Regions from separate parts of the Homo sapiens genome. Here region 2 is linked to region 1. The links come from fine-mapping of genetic effects on gene expression. A gene starts in region 1. The other region holds a variant in brackets. All regions are shown on one strand. Distances are from middle to middle.

What was found. PIP is the estimated chance that this variant, and not a neighbour inherited with it, causes the effect.
Region 2: its variant is fine-mapped to the expression of TRIM45 in prefrontal cortex (GTEx, PIP 0.97).

The regions. Positions count from the first base shown.
Region 1 is chr1:117,117,080-117,125,235 of GRCh38, forward strand. TRIM45 (tripartite motif containing 45) reads right to left here and starts at 4,670. Exons shown (of 6, transcript NM_025188.4): 1 at 3,635-4,670; 2 at 955-1,688. The coding sequence starts at 4,122. RefSeq lists a silencer at 4,435-4,624 and an enhancer at 4,935-5,104.
Region 2 is chr1:117,214,974-117,223,129 of GRCh38, forward strand. No RefSeq gene overlaps it. Among named protein-coding and RNA genes, the nearest start is that of VTCN1, 8.1 kb to the left of the region's middle. The variant G/A (reference allele first, on the strand shown) is at 4,882.

The DNA.
Region 1 (8,156 bases):
CAAAACCACCCTCCCTAAGCTCCAGATCCTGCTGGGCTAGGCAGGGAGTACAGCTGACCAGCCTCACGACCCTCCATGTTTTGAGATCCTCTGCAACTTGGTAGCTCATGCCAAGGTACTGGGGGGATATCCAGTAGCTACAGCCCCTACTCCAGCATTCAGATGAAACAGGGTTTCTTAACCTGAGGTTCATGAACTACTATGAGGTCTATGGAAAGGCTTATGAAGAGTCTAAAAATCTGGAATTGTATGCACAAGTTACTGGGTGTTTCTGTAGGAGAGAACATTCTCAAAGAGATCTATGGCTTCCAAACAGTTAAGAATGCCTGTGTCATTAAGATGCAATCTTCCTATCAGGACTGACCTACTGACCTGTGAAACATATGTTTTAATAATATGCTTCCATTAGAAAGGGAACACTCGTTAAAAAAAACCATTTTTTCCCCCAATTAAATGAAACACCTACCATATCCTTTTAAATGCCAGTAAAGTTGATGTGAACCAAAAAGGGCCTAAAGGAAAGGAAACCGTAATCTCATCTTCCTCATTCCTCTGAAACTCCCTTCAGAACTTGATCTAGGAATCCAGGGCCTGCCATGCTCCTCTCTGAGCAGGCAGAATTTCACCTGGCCCTAGTCACTGCTGTTACCTCCAACGGGCACTGTCTCTGTTCTGCCATCTGATAGAAACAAAACATGATCTGTGTGTTTCTCAGCCATTATTACTTCTCTGAACTGGAAAAGGGTCAAGCCTCACTCCTGTATTAACTGTACCCTAGCCAGAACAAACCAGAAAGGGCAAAGGTGGGGGTCACTGTCTTTCAGATCAGTTTATCTCCCCACCTTTGGTAACCTGGTCAGTAGGGCATGCTTCCTAGCAGAACAAGCCACCAATCTTCACACACCACCTCCCTGTCCACTGCCCTCTCAATGTCAATGGGAAATGCCTTCCTACCTTCTCCTTGTAGGACACATTTGGCTGGATCAACCTCTTTGGTATTAATCGTACCATAAATTTCATAGCCACGGCACTGGCCTGCTTTCTCCTGAGGACAGAAGCGTATCTTATCATTTACTCCAGGACGGGTGCTATATTGAACTTTGTTCAGCTTCCTGAGCCGTTCTACCACCACCCTCTTGGTGATGAGGATCTCCAAGTCTGAGCCGCTGGTCAGCAAGTGCTCGGTGAACTCCACTCCAGTCCGCATGTCTGCCAGTAACTGTTCCAGCTGGGCCTTCTGCAGCTGCAGGGAATTTTCCTTCTGGGCCCGTATGTCTTCCAGCTGCTTCAGCAGCTTGTCCCGATGCTCCTCAATGGCCTTAATGTAGCCCTCCGAGAATGTCCGGACATCAGCTGCCACTGCCTCCACTCGCTTCTGGAGGGCACTGTTTATTATGTGGATCTGAGCCAGGGCTTCCTCCAGGGCCTCCACGTGGGGCTGAGTACCTTTGAGGAGCTCCCACACAGAGTCCCCATGCTTGTGGATGACATTGCTGGTGAAGTCACAGGGGTGTTCCCGATGCTCCCCCACCACACAATCCTGGCACACGGGCCGGTCACAGAACTCACAGAACAGCCTCAGTTCCTCTGCAGGGTGAACAGGACACAGGATGGGCTTCCCAATCCGGCTGTAGCCTTTCAAGTCTTTTAGGTCCACCATGGTGTGGTAAGTCGTTTTCTTCTGCCGCCTAGGGGCAAACAGAATCAGTAACAGGAAATAAGGGGATAATTCTGTTGGGAATAGTTGGGCAGAGAGATTTTAGGAGCACAGGATCTGAAGTTAAACAAACCTGATTTCAATTCCTTGCTCTAATCTCTAATTGCATGAACCTCTCTGATTCCAGTTTCTCATCTGTACAGTGGGGACAATACCTACCTGAAAGAGCTGTTGTATAGAATAACGTGTGAACAGACTAGGGCTCTGGCTGGCTACATGCCTATGCAGAAGGTTGCAAGACTATGACTGCATGCTAGAACTTTCCCAAAGAGTTTAGACAAGAGTCACAGTCGGCTTCCTAAGGTAAGCTAGCAGTGAGGGCATGGCAGAAAACCAGCATCAAGAAACAGAAACCATGCCAGATAACACAGCAATAAAGTCCAAGCAATTAAAAAGCAGACACCAAGTCTCATCTAGCTTGCATCTAAGATTTTGGTGAAGCATTTCTGTTGACCTGTATCACCCAAATCAGCAGGCTAGAATTTTTTTCAAGAGACATCGTCAACATCATTAGAAAGCGTGAAACCGGCCGGGCGCGGTGGCTCACGCCTGTAACCCCAGCATTTTGGGAGGCTGAGGTGGGCGGATCAACTGAGGTCAGGAGTTTGAGACCAGCCTGGCCAACATGGTGAAACCCTGTCTCTACTAAAAATACAAAAAATTAGCCAGGCGTGGTGGCATGTGCCTGTAATCCCAGCTACTGGGGAGGCTGAGGCAGGAGAATCGCTTGAACCTAGGAGGTGGAGGTTGCAGTGAGTGGAGATTGTGTTATTGCACTCCAGCCTGGGCGACTAGAGCCAGACTCCATCTCAGAAAAAAAAAAAAAGAGAAAAGAAAGTGTGAAACCAATGGTTAGTAGAATCAAAGCTCTCTTTCTAATTCCTTTCCTATAGTAGCCCTCTAGAGATGTAGGGAAATCCTTAGGAAAACATGGTGACTGTTCAGAGTTCCTCCATTAGCATTGTATCAATTTGAAGCTTATATGCCTATTCTGGCACCAGAAGAGTGGCTGCAGAGAAAATAGGGTTAGCTGGTTTGGCTGGCAGCAAGACAGTCGCAGGGACTATCACATAATTACAAGTTAAAAATAGAGTGAAGTCTACAAACTTGTTCTGTTAGTGTAGCCAGAAAACAAATGGAAGTAGAACCCGAAACCTATTTTAGGCTAATCCTAAAACTGTGGTCATTTTATATTCTGGTGTCCTAGGATGGGGTAAGGTAAGAGTACGAAGGGACAAAAGTGATCCATCTGACAAACTATTCACCAAATGCCATAAAACACATAGTCTGCACCCCAATTAACACCTACCAGCCCACCTCACCAAGCTCCAGAGTAACTCTAAGGTACACAAAGCAAAAGCTGAGGTCCGGCCAATCATCATCACCTATTCTAGGAGCACAGCATGGGTTACTGGAATGTAGTCAAAATGATCTGGATTTAATACTCAGTTCTGTTACACACTTACCAACTGTAGGACCTTGGCAAATCACATAATATTGCTGAGCTTGTTTCCCCAATTAATAAATGGGGGCGAAAACAGGGCCTGCTTTTCTGTAAGAGTTGCAAGATCGAAGGAGATCAAGAACAGGATCTATGCTGTTATATTCATTCTCCTGTTTCTCCAGCACCCAGTACAATTATTCACTACACGAATGACTGAAGGAAACTGTAGCTGCACTTTGTAAATTGAAAGGGTTTATTGCTATTGCTATATTAGGCTATATATTAGGTACTATATTAGGCTAACCGGGTTAACTGTTGTACTGGAGTATTTGCTATTGCATTGTTATATTGCTCTTTGACCTTCCACGGTATTTGAGAAGGCTTTCCTTTTCATCTGCTCACCGAGGGATTTGTCTTGACACCTCTTTGTAATCTGCTCTTAAGCTACACCTGATGGAGTGTCCCATCTTTACCTATGAGCCTGGCAGCAGAAGTGGCAGAGGTTGGCTTTGCAGGTCTGACACCTCTTCTCTACTTCCCTGTCGTTGCACAGGTCACACACCAGGCCCTGGCCTTCCCCACGTAGGCTCTCCAGCATCACATCATTCACGGCCAGGTGGTCTATGGTTAAAGCCTTCACTCCACCCATGGGCAGGTCCACCTGAGCATCACATACAGGACAAAGGATGCCGATCTGCGACTGCAGACTTCGTGGCTTGAGTTCCTGGAATATTGACCCCTCAGAGCTTGTGTCAGAGTCTCCCCCTCGGATGTCCACTACTGAGAAGGGCTCCAGCTGCTCCAGACACGTGGTGCAAACTGTATGCAAACAAGGCAAGAGCCTGGGGGCTTTGAAAAGCCCCAAGCACAGGGGGCAGTGAGTCTTGCCTGAGTTCCCAAGTGCAGTCCCACTAGTGAGTTTGCTTACAAAGCCCAGCAGCGGTTTTCTGTTTTCTGACATACTCCTCACGTTTGTGACCAATATTAGAAAGGGCCCTGGGCAGTTCTACGATTTAGTAGCAGGTGATTAAGCCCACCCAAAGAGAAAGTCTCCAGAACTTGAACAGAGACCATGGGGACTCCCTCGCTGACAAATAAAAGGGCAGACGGGAAGACGAGGCGTCCTCGAAGGAATCACCCACAGATCTACTCAGGAGGGCCCCCTCCTTTCCACTGCATCCCACACCAGACACGCCCACGCCCTCCTCTGCCCCGCAAGTCCTCCCCGGATGCGCTTCCAGGTCTAGCTCTCCAGCTAGTCCTGCTGCCAACAAAGTCACCCCTGCACCTCTCGCTCCCTCCACTGCCACCCCCCTCCCGCCGCCCGCCCCACTGCGCGCCACACGCGACAAGCGCCGACCCCACCCGCGCACGATGAGGTAGGGGCCCTCTTGCTCCTTCCCTCTGCGAAAGGCGCGCGCCGGGTGAGGGAATTGCAAGCCGCCGGCGGGCTTCTCGGTGTCCACCGCCTCTCCCGCGCCTCGGCCCGGGACGCCCGCGGGCTCTGGCCCCTCCTCACACCAATCCCAGCCCGGTCTACTCCGGCGAGTCCAATCACCGTCCGAGAGCGGCGGCCCTCGCCGCTCCGGGCCCCGCCGCCCTCCAGAGTGACGCCACTAAGCATCCAATAAGTTTTGGAAATTCCACATCTTCGCCAGTCCACTCACGCGGGGGGCGGGACCTGACAAGGCCGTGGGCGGGGCGGCCGAAGGGCTTAGAGTGCGGCGGGAGGAAAAGGCCAAGGCTCGGAGCGAGCGGCATAGTGTAGTCAGCGTCACCGTTTCACAGGGACTGTCCCTCTCTCTGTGGTGACCAGAGAGGCCTCAGGACCTCTTAAAAAGCCACGCTGATTTGGCGCCGGGACGGCCTTCTTTCTGCCCTCGGACTCGTCCCACGAACGCAGACTGGGTTCTCCCATTGGTGGATGGCACTGTCAGTTGGCTCTGCGCTGGGAGTGGGAGACGTTTTTCGGGCTCCCGAGGTCTCGGCCGCTCGGGGGCGCCAGACGTTTCTCCTCCACGCGGGTTTGAGGCTGCGAGGCTCCCCTCTGTCCTCAGGCGCTTACTGTAGCTCACAGGTCCCTCAGGCCTAGCGTGCTGGGTACAAGCACTCCCGCGGCTCCCCGACTTTGGGTATTTTTCGGGGGTGAGGGCATCTCAGGCTCGCGTTACGGGGACCGGTTCGGGAGACCGTGGAGCCGAGGTGTCGAATGGAGGGCTTACTTCGGCCGGGCCAGGGAGCGCCACCCTCCTTGTCGGGCTCGGGAAGGCTTTGTTTTCCGGTCCGGGGGGAGTGCAGATGACCTAAGGAGTTGAATGTCACCCGGGATTCCACAGTCCTGTGTAACAGAAACGAGCTGAGCGAGTTGGACCCGCTGTTTTTATCAGTCAATCACGGAGGGCTCCTGCCTGGTCACAGTGAGACAATGGACGGTGGCAATGAGGGACAAGCCCTTTGTGGGCTTAAAACTAATTGGGAAGATGAACACGTCCGACCCCTTTAACTTTATAATTACACGGCCACCTTCTCTGGCCTTACCAGGCGTCTCCTGATTCTCCAAAATTCCAAAAATGGAAACAGCTGCTCCTTTCCCCTCCACCTGTTGTTATCTCCAGTTGCGTCAGCTTGTCTACTGGGCCCTCACTGCTTTCTTTGTTCATGACCTTCCCTACTTAATTTGTACCCAGTGGGCGACTGTTTCACTTGATTCCTTCATTATCTGTTTCATGCTATAGGCATAGTGTCTGGAGCCTAAGCTTTTAAAAGTATGGAATCTGAAAAAAAGTTAACCCCAAAATATGAAAAAAAAAAAAAAAACCATTATAAAATATAAAAATGAAATGTTTGGCCATTTCCAAAATATAACACGCCAATGAGTCAAATGCCACCTTTATATAAAATGTGCAAGTAATTTCCAAATGTTAAGCATATCTCCAAAGATTTTTAAATAGTCCTTACCTAGATTTTTTTCAGCCTCTTGTCCTTCTTGCATCTACTCTCAAAATCGGCATTCGCCTCTCCAGTAGGCTGGAGGAAGTCACAAAAACTGTGTGGACTTGGGTTTGCTATATATTCTTGCTTTGAACTTCACCTTTACCCTCCCTGCTGCTTGGCTGTGCTTTACTTCATCTCTTGTTCATACTGTATCACATTTCTTGTGGTAGTAGTTTCAAGCTTCTCTTGTTTCAGAAGTACTTCATAATTTACACGTGCAATATCTCATTTAGCAGTATCTCATTTAACCTTTAACAATATTGTAAGGAAATGGCCTCAAAGAGGTCTTGCCAGGTCTTGGATGGCCAGCCCAAGTTAACATATCTGGAACTTGAACACAACCTTATGATGCCATATCTAAGATTATATTCGGGCTACCTCTACCTTTCCCTTTTTTTTTTTTTCTTTTTTTGAGATTGAGTTTTGCTCTTGTTGCCTAGGCCGGAATGCAATGGCAGGATCTCGGCACACTGCAACCTCCACCTCCAGGGTTCAAGCGATTCTCCTGCCTCAGCCTCCCAGGTAGCTGGAATTACAGGCATGCACCACCACACCTGGCTAATTTTTTGTATTTTTAGTAGAGACTGGATTTCACCATGTTGGGCAGGCTCCTCTCGAACTCCTGACCTCAGGTGATCCACCCGCCTCGGCCTCCCAAAGCGCTGGGATTACAGGCGTGAGCCACCGCGCCTGGCCACCTCTACCTTTCCTTTCTCAGTTTATTAAGCATCAAATCCCTCACACATGCTGCAGCTAATTCCCTTCCATTGATGAGAAAAACAAGGTTGTCTGAAGAACTGCCTCGCCTTTCTACTTAAAAAATCCATGATTCCTCACACCTCCTCTCTTACCTCTCCTGACTGCCATTCTTTAGTGCCAAGATTAGTTCCTCAAGATTTTTGTTTTTTATCCCAACCTCTCCTGCTTCCTCAAAACCTTATTCCTATGTTTCAGTCAGTTTTTCTGCCAAGAGTTCTGATGAAGTCCTGAAAGGGGAAGCAAATCGTCTTTTGATCTAGCTCCCCTTCAACGTATTAATAGTGGTGGTTCTCGCCCCTATATTTCTCAAAAGGGTGGTCTCACTGTCTGCTTTCATCATCTTTTTATAACCATCACCACCGATTTATTCCTCCCCTCTTTCCTATTGAGACTTTCTTGTAGATCATGAGTGACCATATTGCTGGCCTTTTCTCAATAGGCAATCTCTTTAGTATTTACCATTTTTTGTACTTCCTCATCCTTAAAACTTGCCTCCTCCTTGACTTCTGAAATACTCTACTCTCCTAACCTTCTGTCTCTTGGGCTGCTTCTCACACCCTCCATCCTCACTAGTTCCCCTTCCTCCACTTTATCTCCTACCTTTGCGTCTACATTTCCTCACGTGGATGATTCCCAGACCAACGCTTCCAGTACTGATGTCTCCCCTGAGCTTTTGACATAGATTTCTAAATCTGCACTCAAATATGTTCCTATCACCAAGTCCCACATAGCTTAAACTTCACTGAACTTCTTTGCTCACTGAACTGCACTCTCTGAATTTTCCTATTTGATTCTCTCCAGAGTATCATCATTCTCCTTTCCCTCCTGCATGAAACCTTATAGTGCTGCTGGCCTCCTTTCTCTTGTTCCATATCCAGGCAGACACCGATTTCTTTCCATCCCCACTGCCAACACCTCACTGCATACACTTTTTAAGATGCTATAGCTCTTTATCACCCTCACCTTAAGTATTACAATAGTGTCTGAATTATCCCTGCCCTTTATTTTTTTTGATCTACACAGTTCTTCCAAATTAATTGTAAAAACATATAAAAACATGATACAAGTCAGTCTTCATTCTAAAACTTTCAGTAGCTCCCCATTTTTGTAGGATAATATCTGCATTCTTCAATAGATTCATAAAACTGCTTGTTTAGTTATTCCCTAAACATTGCCAAGCACGTTTCTTGGTGTTTGCCAAGTTGTCGGCAACATTCTCCTTCCTTTATTATTTAAACCTAC
Region 2 (8,156 bases), 98 kb after region 1:
GAAAGGTGTCTTATTCATTTTTGTATTTCACACCAGCATAAGGCATGCACAGAGTAAGCAATCATTAGATGTTTGTTGGATAAATGTACATTTTTCTTTCACAGCACACAGTAATGGTACTATTTTCCATTTATGCATCTATCTCATTGCTAGTCTGTGAGCTCTTGGAGGGTAAAAACTAGGCCTCGTTCATCTTTTTTTGTTATCAGGTCCTAGCACCGTGCCAGGCATAAAAAGCACTCAGTAACATTTGATGGATGAGTAAGCAGGGATCAACTTGGGGTGTGATCAGTCATTTTCCAGAGGAGATGTCTTCTGAGCTGGATTGACACTATTAGAGGCAGCAGAGAACAAGTTGCATTTGAGATAGAGGAACAATTTATGATTAGGACAAAGGTAAAGCAGACGTAGGAGATAAGCACAAAATCTATTCTCTCCTTGTTGATCTTGGGGAAAGAGAGAGACAGAGATTACTTAATGTATCTGGAACCAAAATGTCTTATGAATTTTTTTTTTTTTTTTTTTTTTTTTGAGACGGAGTCTCACTCTGTCGCCCAGGCTGGAGTGCAGTGGCGGGATCTCGGCTCACTGCAAGCTCCGCCTCCCGGGTTCACGCCATTCTCCTGCCTCAGCCTCCCAAGTAGCTGGGACTACAGGCGCCCGCCACTACGCCCGGCTAATTTTTTTGTATTTTTAGTAGAGACGGGGTTTCACCGTTTTAGCCGGGATGGTCTCGATCTCCTGACCTCGTGATCCGCCCGCCTCGGCCTCCCAAACTGCTGGGATTACAGGCGTGAGCCACCACGCCCGGCCTATGAATTTTTTTAAAAAATTATTTAAATAGCCCAGTCACCTGGAGCTCTGTTTTCTCATTGTGTAGCTGCATATTTTCCTGCGTATAAGGCTTACATTTCCTTGGAATCACAGCACATTCTGGCTCTGATAGGAAGAGCACCCGCCCATGAGTGAATGTGGACCTAGCCGGTTGTTCCAAGTGCTGGCACAGAAGCAGGCTCTGTGCTGTGCTTGCGACTGGACCAGGCATGTTGCAAGCCACTCCCCTGGTGGTCTCTGGCATCCAGACAAGGGGAATGCAGTGGCACCTAGGCAGGGGTGTCCATGACCCCAAAGCCCCAGAGGGGGTGTTACAGCATGCTAATTAGCTCTTATAGTCCCGGCTTCTGCTGCCTAGTGGACAGTGGCATGTTAACAGCTCTGTCATTTCCTTGCCCCACTCTCGCCAGCAGCTCTGGGGCAAACTTGGCACCACCACTGCTTTCCGTTGCATGGGGCAGCTGCCCTTCACCAGTCCCATGTCCAAAAAAAATGAGGTCATGCTGACAATCAAAGGGTTGGGCCTGAACAAGGCCTGGGCAGGGGCATTGCTGGCAGGAGCTCTCCAACTGGCAGAGTGATCAAGAAAAATCCTGTGTCATTGTGACTTCTGGAGTAATGGCTGGCAATTGTTTATGTCTACACCTTAGCAGAATTCAGGCTCCCCTATCCTCCTAGCCTGGTGGTCTCTCATTAGCTTTACAAAGGCAGTTAAGTTTGGCGGAAGGGCTATTCTCACTTAAACTATAAACTAAATGTCTCCCAAAATTAGCTTGGCCCAAGCCCAGTAATAATTAAGTATAGCTTGAAGGCTAAAGGCCAGAAATGAGTTGGCTAGATCAGATCTCCCCAACTGCCATAATTTTCTCACTGTTATAATTTCTGCAAAGGTAGTCTCAATTCTGATAAACACCTTGTCATTAGCAGGAATTTGGAATCCTGCTAAAGGAGAAGAGATCTTATAATATTTTGCAGAGCTGGGAAGAGCAGACCTTGTAGTCTTAATATAGCAAACTTCAAACGGCTAATTGAAAGGGATGCTGACATCTGGTGAAATATTAACGAGCTATCACTTTGTCTGAGACCTTGACTTTCTTCCACTAGTTACTAGGGCCTCCATATAAGGGAAGGGCTGATTGCTTCGTCACTGGCCAGGCAGAGGACCAGTATCTAAGGCAGATGCTATGCTTCCTCTCCATTCCTCCTTCCTCATCCTTCAGCCAGAAGCCCTCAGGCATCGATTCCTAGCAGCCCTGCCTATTGATTTACCAGTTCACAAATTTGTGTGACCCCTACTGTTATCACTAAGTCAGAATGTCCTGGGGCCTGAGTGGAATCCCTGGTCAGCAGAACCCACACTGATTTATTTATTTGAGACAGGGTCTCACTCTGTTGCCCAGGCTGCAGTGCAGTGGCATGATCTCAGCTCACTGCAACCTCCACCTTCTGGGATCAGGTGATCCTCTCATCTCAGTCTCCTGAGTAGCTGGCACTACAGGTGTGCATGACCACGCCCAGCTAATTTTTATATTTTTAGTAGAGACTGGTTTTCACCACATTTCACAGGTTTTGGTCAGGTTGTCTTGAACTCCTGGCCTCAAGTGATCTGCCCGCCTCAGCCTCCCAAAGTGCTTGGATTACAGGCATGAGCCTGCGAGAAAGGATCTGTTCCACACCTCTCTCTTTGGCTTGTAGATGGCCATCTTCTCTTTATATCTCTTCATATCATCTTTCCTCTATGCATCTGCCTCTGTGTCCGAACTTTTTCTTTTTATAAGGACACCATTTGGGGTGGAGCCAAGATGGCCAAATAGGAACAGCTCCAGTCTACAGCTGCCAGTGTGAGCGACGCAGAACACGGGTGATTTCTGCATTTCCAACTGAGGTACCGGGTTCATCGCACTGGGGATTGTTGGACAGTGGGTGCAGGACAGTGGGTGCAGTGCACTGAGCATGAGCCAAAGCAGGGCGAGGCATCTCCTCACCCGGGAAGCACAAGGGGTCAGGGAATTCCCTTTCCTAGCCAAGGAAAGAGGTGACAGATGGCACCTGGAAAATCGGGTCACTCCCATCCTAATACTGTGCTTTTCCAATGGTCTTAGCAAACGGCACACCAGGAGATTATATCCTGTGCCTGGCTCGGAGGGTCCTATGCCCACGGAGCCTCGCTCATTGCTAGCACAGCAGTCTGAGATCAAACTGCAAGGAAGCAGCAAGGCTGGGGGAGGGGCACCCTCCATTGCCAAGGCTTAAGTAGGTAAACAAAGCAGCTGGGAAGCTCGAACTGGGTGGAGCCCACCGCAGCTCAAGGAGGCCTGCCTGCCTCTGTAGACTCCACCTCTGGGGGCAGGGCACAGCCAAACAAAAGGCAGCAGAAACCTCTGCAGACTTAAATGTCCCTGTCTGACAGCTTTGAAGAGAGTAGTGGTTCTCCCAGCACGCAGCTTGAGATCTGAGAACGGACAGACTGTCTCCTCAAGTGGGTCCCAGACCCCTGAGTAGCCTAACTGGGAGGCACGCCCCAGTAGGGGCAGACTGACACCTCACACGGCTGGGTACTCCTATGGAACAAAACTTCCAGAGGAACGATCAGGCAGCAACATTTGCTGTTCACCAATATCTGCTGTTCTGCAGCCTCCGCTGCTGATACCCAGGCAAACGGGTTCTGGAGTAGACCTTCAGAAAACTCCAACAGACCTGCAGCTGAGGGTCCTGACTGTTAGAAGGAAAACTAACAAACAGAAAGGACATCCACACCAAAACCCCATCTGTATGTCACCATCATCAAAGACCAAAGGTAGATAAAACCACAAAGATGGGGAAAATCACAGCAGAAAAACTGGAAACTCTAAAAATCAGAGCACCTCTCCTCCTCCAAAGGAATGCAGCTCCTCACCAGCAACAGAACAAAGCTGGATGGAGAATGACTTTGAGTTGAGAGTTGACTTTGAGTTGAGTTGAGGGAAGAAGGCTTCAGACGATCGAACTACTCCGAGCTAAAGGAGGAAGTTCGAACCCATGGCAAAGAAGTTAAAAACCTTGAAAAAAGATTAGATGAATAGCTAACTAAAATAACCAATGCAGAGAAGTCCTTAAAGGACCTGAAGGAGCTGAAAACCACGGCATGAGAATTACATGATGAATGCACAAGCCTCAGGAGCAGATTCAATCAACTGGAAGAAAGGGTATCAGTGATGGAAGATCAAATGAATGAAATGAAATGAAAAGAGAAGTTTAGAGAAAAAAGAATAAAAAGAAACAAACAAAGCCTCCAAGAAGTATGGGACTATGTGAAAAGACCAAATCTATATCTGATTGGTGTACCTAAAACTGACGGGGAGAATGGAACCAAGTTGGAAAACACTCTGCAGGATATTATCCAGGAGAACTTCTCCAATCTAGCAAGGCAGGCCAACATTCAAATCCAGGAAATACAGAGAACGCCACAAAGATACTCCTCGAGAAGAGAAACTCCAAGACACATAATTGTCAGATTCACCAAAGTTGAAATGAAGGACAAAATGTTAAGGGCAGCCAGAGAGAAAGGTCGGGTTACCCACAAAGGGAAGCCCATCAGACTAACAGCTGATCTCTCAGCAGAAACTCTACAAGCCAGAAGAGAGTGGGGGCCAATATTCAACATTCTTAAAGAAAAGAATTTTCAGCCCAGAATTGCATATCCAGCCAAACTAAGCTTCATAAGTGAAGGAGAAATAAAATACTTTACAGACAAGTAAATGCTGAGAGATTTTGTCACCATCAGGCCTGCCCTACAAGAGCTCCTGAAGGAAGCACTAAACATGGAAAGGAACAACTGGTACCAGCCACTGCAAAAACATGCCAAATTGTAAAGACCATCGAGGCTAGGAAGAAACTGCATCAACTAATGAGCAAAATAACCAGCTAACATCATAATGACAGGATCAAATTCACACATAACAATATTAACCTTAAATGTAAATGGGCTAAATGCTCCAATTAAAAGATAGAGATTGGCAAATTGGATAAAGAGTCAAGACCCATCAGTGTGCTGTATTCAGGAAACCC[G/A]TCTCACATGCAGAGACACACATAGGCTCAAAATAAAGGGATGGAGGAAGATCTACCAAGCAAATGGAAAACAAAAAAAGGCAGAGGTTGCAATCCTAGTCTCTGATAAAACAGACTTTAAACCAACAAAGATCAAAAGAGACAAAGAAGGCCATTACATAATGGTAAAGAGATAAATTCAACAAGAAGAGCTAACTATCCTAAATATAAATGCACCCAATACAGGAGCACCCAGATTCATAAAGCAAGTCCTTAGAGACCTACAAAGAGACTTAGTCTCCCACACAATAATAATGGGAGACTTTAACATCCCACTGTTAACCTTAGACAGATCAATGAGACAGAAAGTTAACAAGGATATTCAGGAATTGAACTCAGCTCTGCACCAAAGCAACCTAATAGACATCTACAGAACTCTCCACCCCAAATCAACAGAATATACATTCTTTTCAGCACCACACCACACCTATTCCAAAATTGACCACATAGTTGGAAGTAAAGCACTCCTCAGCAAAAGTAAAAGAACAGAAATTATAACAAACTGTCTCTCAGACTACAGTGCAATCAAACTAGAACTCAGCATTAAGAAACTCACTCAAAACCACTCAACTACATGGAAACTGAACAACCTGCTCCTGAATGACTACTGGATACATAACGAAAAGAAGGCAGAAGTAAATATGTTCTTTGAAACCAACGAGAACAAAGACACAACATACCAGAATCTCTGGGACACATTCAAAGCAGTGTGTAGAGGGAAATTTATAGCACTAAATGCCCACAAGAGAAAGCAGGAAATATCTAAAATTGACACCCTAACATCACAATTAAAAGTACTAGAGAAGCAAGAGCAAACACATTCAAAAGCTAGCAGAAGGCAAGAAATAACTAAGATCAGAGCAGAACTGAAGGAAATAGAGACACAAAAAACCCTTCAAAAAATCAATGAATCCAGGAGCTGGTTTTTTGAAAAGATCAACAAAATTGATAGACCGCTAGCAAGACTAATAAAGAAGAAAAGACAGAAGAATCAAATAGACACAATAAAAAATGATAAAGGGGATATCACCACCGATCGCACAGAAATACAAACTACCATCAGAGACTTCTATAAACACCTCTAATGCAAATAAACTAGAAAATCTAGAAGAAATGGATAAATTCCTGGACACATATACCCTCCCAAGACTAAACCAGGAAGAAGTTGAATCTCTGAATAGACCAATAACAGGCTCTGAAATTGAGGCAATAATTAATAGCTTACCAACAAAAAAAGTCCAGGACCAGATGGATTCACAGCCAAATTCTACCAGAGGTACAAGGAGGAGCTGGTACCATTCCTTCTGAAACTACTCCAATCAATAGAAAAAGAGGGAATCCTCCCTAAATCATTTTATGAGGCCAGTATCATTCTGATACCAAAGCCTGGCAGAGACACAACAAAAAAAGAGAATTTTAGACCAATATCCCTGATGAACATCGATGCAAAATCCTCAATAAAATACTGGCAAACCAAATCCAGCAGCACATCAAAAAGCTTACCCACCATGATCAAATGGGCTTCATCCCTGGAATGCAAGGCTGGTTCAACATATGCAATCAATAAACATAATCCAGCATATAAACAGAACCGAAGACAAAAACCACATGATTATCTCAGTAGATGCAGAAAAGGCCTTTGACAAAATTCAACAATGCTTCATGCTAAAAACTCTCAATAAATTAGGTATTGATGGGATGTGTCTCAAAATAATAAGAGCTATTTATGACAAACCCACAGCCAATATCATACTGAATTGGCAAAAACTGGAAGCATTCCCTTTGAAAACTGGCACAAGACAGGGGTGCCCTCTCTCACCACTCCTATTCAACATAGTGTTGGAAGTTCTGGCCAGGGCAATCAGGCAGGAGAAGGAAATAAAGGGTATTCAATTAGGAAAAGAGGAAGTCAAATTGTCCCTGTTTGCAGATGACCTGATTGTATATCTAGAAAACCCCATCATCTCAGCCCAAAATCTCCTAAAACTGATAGGCAACTTCAGCAAAGTCTCAGGATACAAAATCAATGTGCAAAAATCACAAGCATTCTTATACATCAATAACAGACAAACAGAGAGCCAAATCATGAGTGAACTCCCATTCACAATTACTTCAAAGAGAATAAAATACCTAGGAATCCAACTTACAAGGGATGTGAAGGACCTCTTCAAGGAGAACTACAAACCACTGCTCAATGAAATAAAAGAGGATACAAACAAATGGAAGAACATTCCATGCTCATGGGTAGGAAGAATCAATATTGTGAAAATGGCCATACTGCCCAAGGTAATTTATAGATTCAATGCCATCCCCATCAAGCTACCAGGGACTTTCTTCACAGAATTGGAAAAAACTACTTTAAAGTTCATATGGAACCAAAAAAGAGCCCGCATTGCCAAGTGAATCCTAAGCCAAAAGAACAAAGCTGGAGGCATCACGCTACCTGACTTCAAACTATACTACAATGCTACAGTAACCGAAACAGCATGGTACTGGTACCAAAACAGAGATATAGACCAATGGAAAAGAACAGAGCCCTCAGAAATAATGCTGCATATCTACAACCATCTGATCTTTGACAAACCTGACAAAAACAAGAAATGGGGAAAGGATTCCCTGTTTAATAAATGGTGCTGGGAAAACTGGCTAGCCATATGTAGAAAGCTGAAACTGGATCCCTTCCTTACACCTTATACAAAAATTAATTCAAGATGGATTAAAGACTTAAATGTTAGACCTAAAACCATAAAAACCCTAGAAGAAAACCTAGGCAATACCATTCAGGACATAGGCATGGGCAAGGGCTTCATGTCTAAAACACCAAAAGCAATGGCAACAAAAGCCAAAATTTACAAATGGGATCTCATTAAACTAAAGAGCTTCTGCATAGCAAAAGAAACTACCATCAGAGTGAACAGGCAACCTACAGAATGGGAGAAAATTTTTGCAATCTACTTGTCTGACAAAGGGCTAATATCCAGAATCTACAATGAACTCAAACAAATTTACAAGAAAAAAACAAACAACCCCATCAAAAAGTGGGTGAAGGATATGAACAGACACTTCTCAAAAGAAGACATTTATGCAGCCAAAAGACACATGAAAAAATGCTCATCATCACTGGCCATCAGAGAAATGCAAATCAAAACCACAATGAGATACCATCTCACACCAGTTAGAATGGCAATCATTAAAAAGTCAGGAAACAACAGGTGCTGGAGAGGATGTGGAGAAAT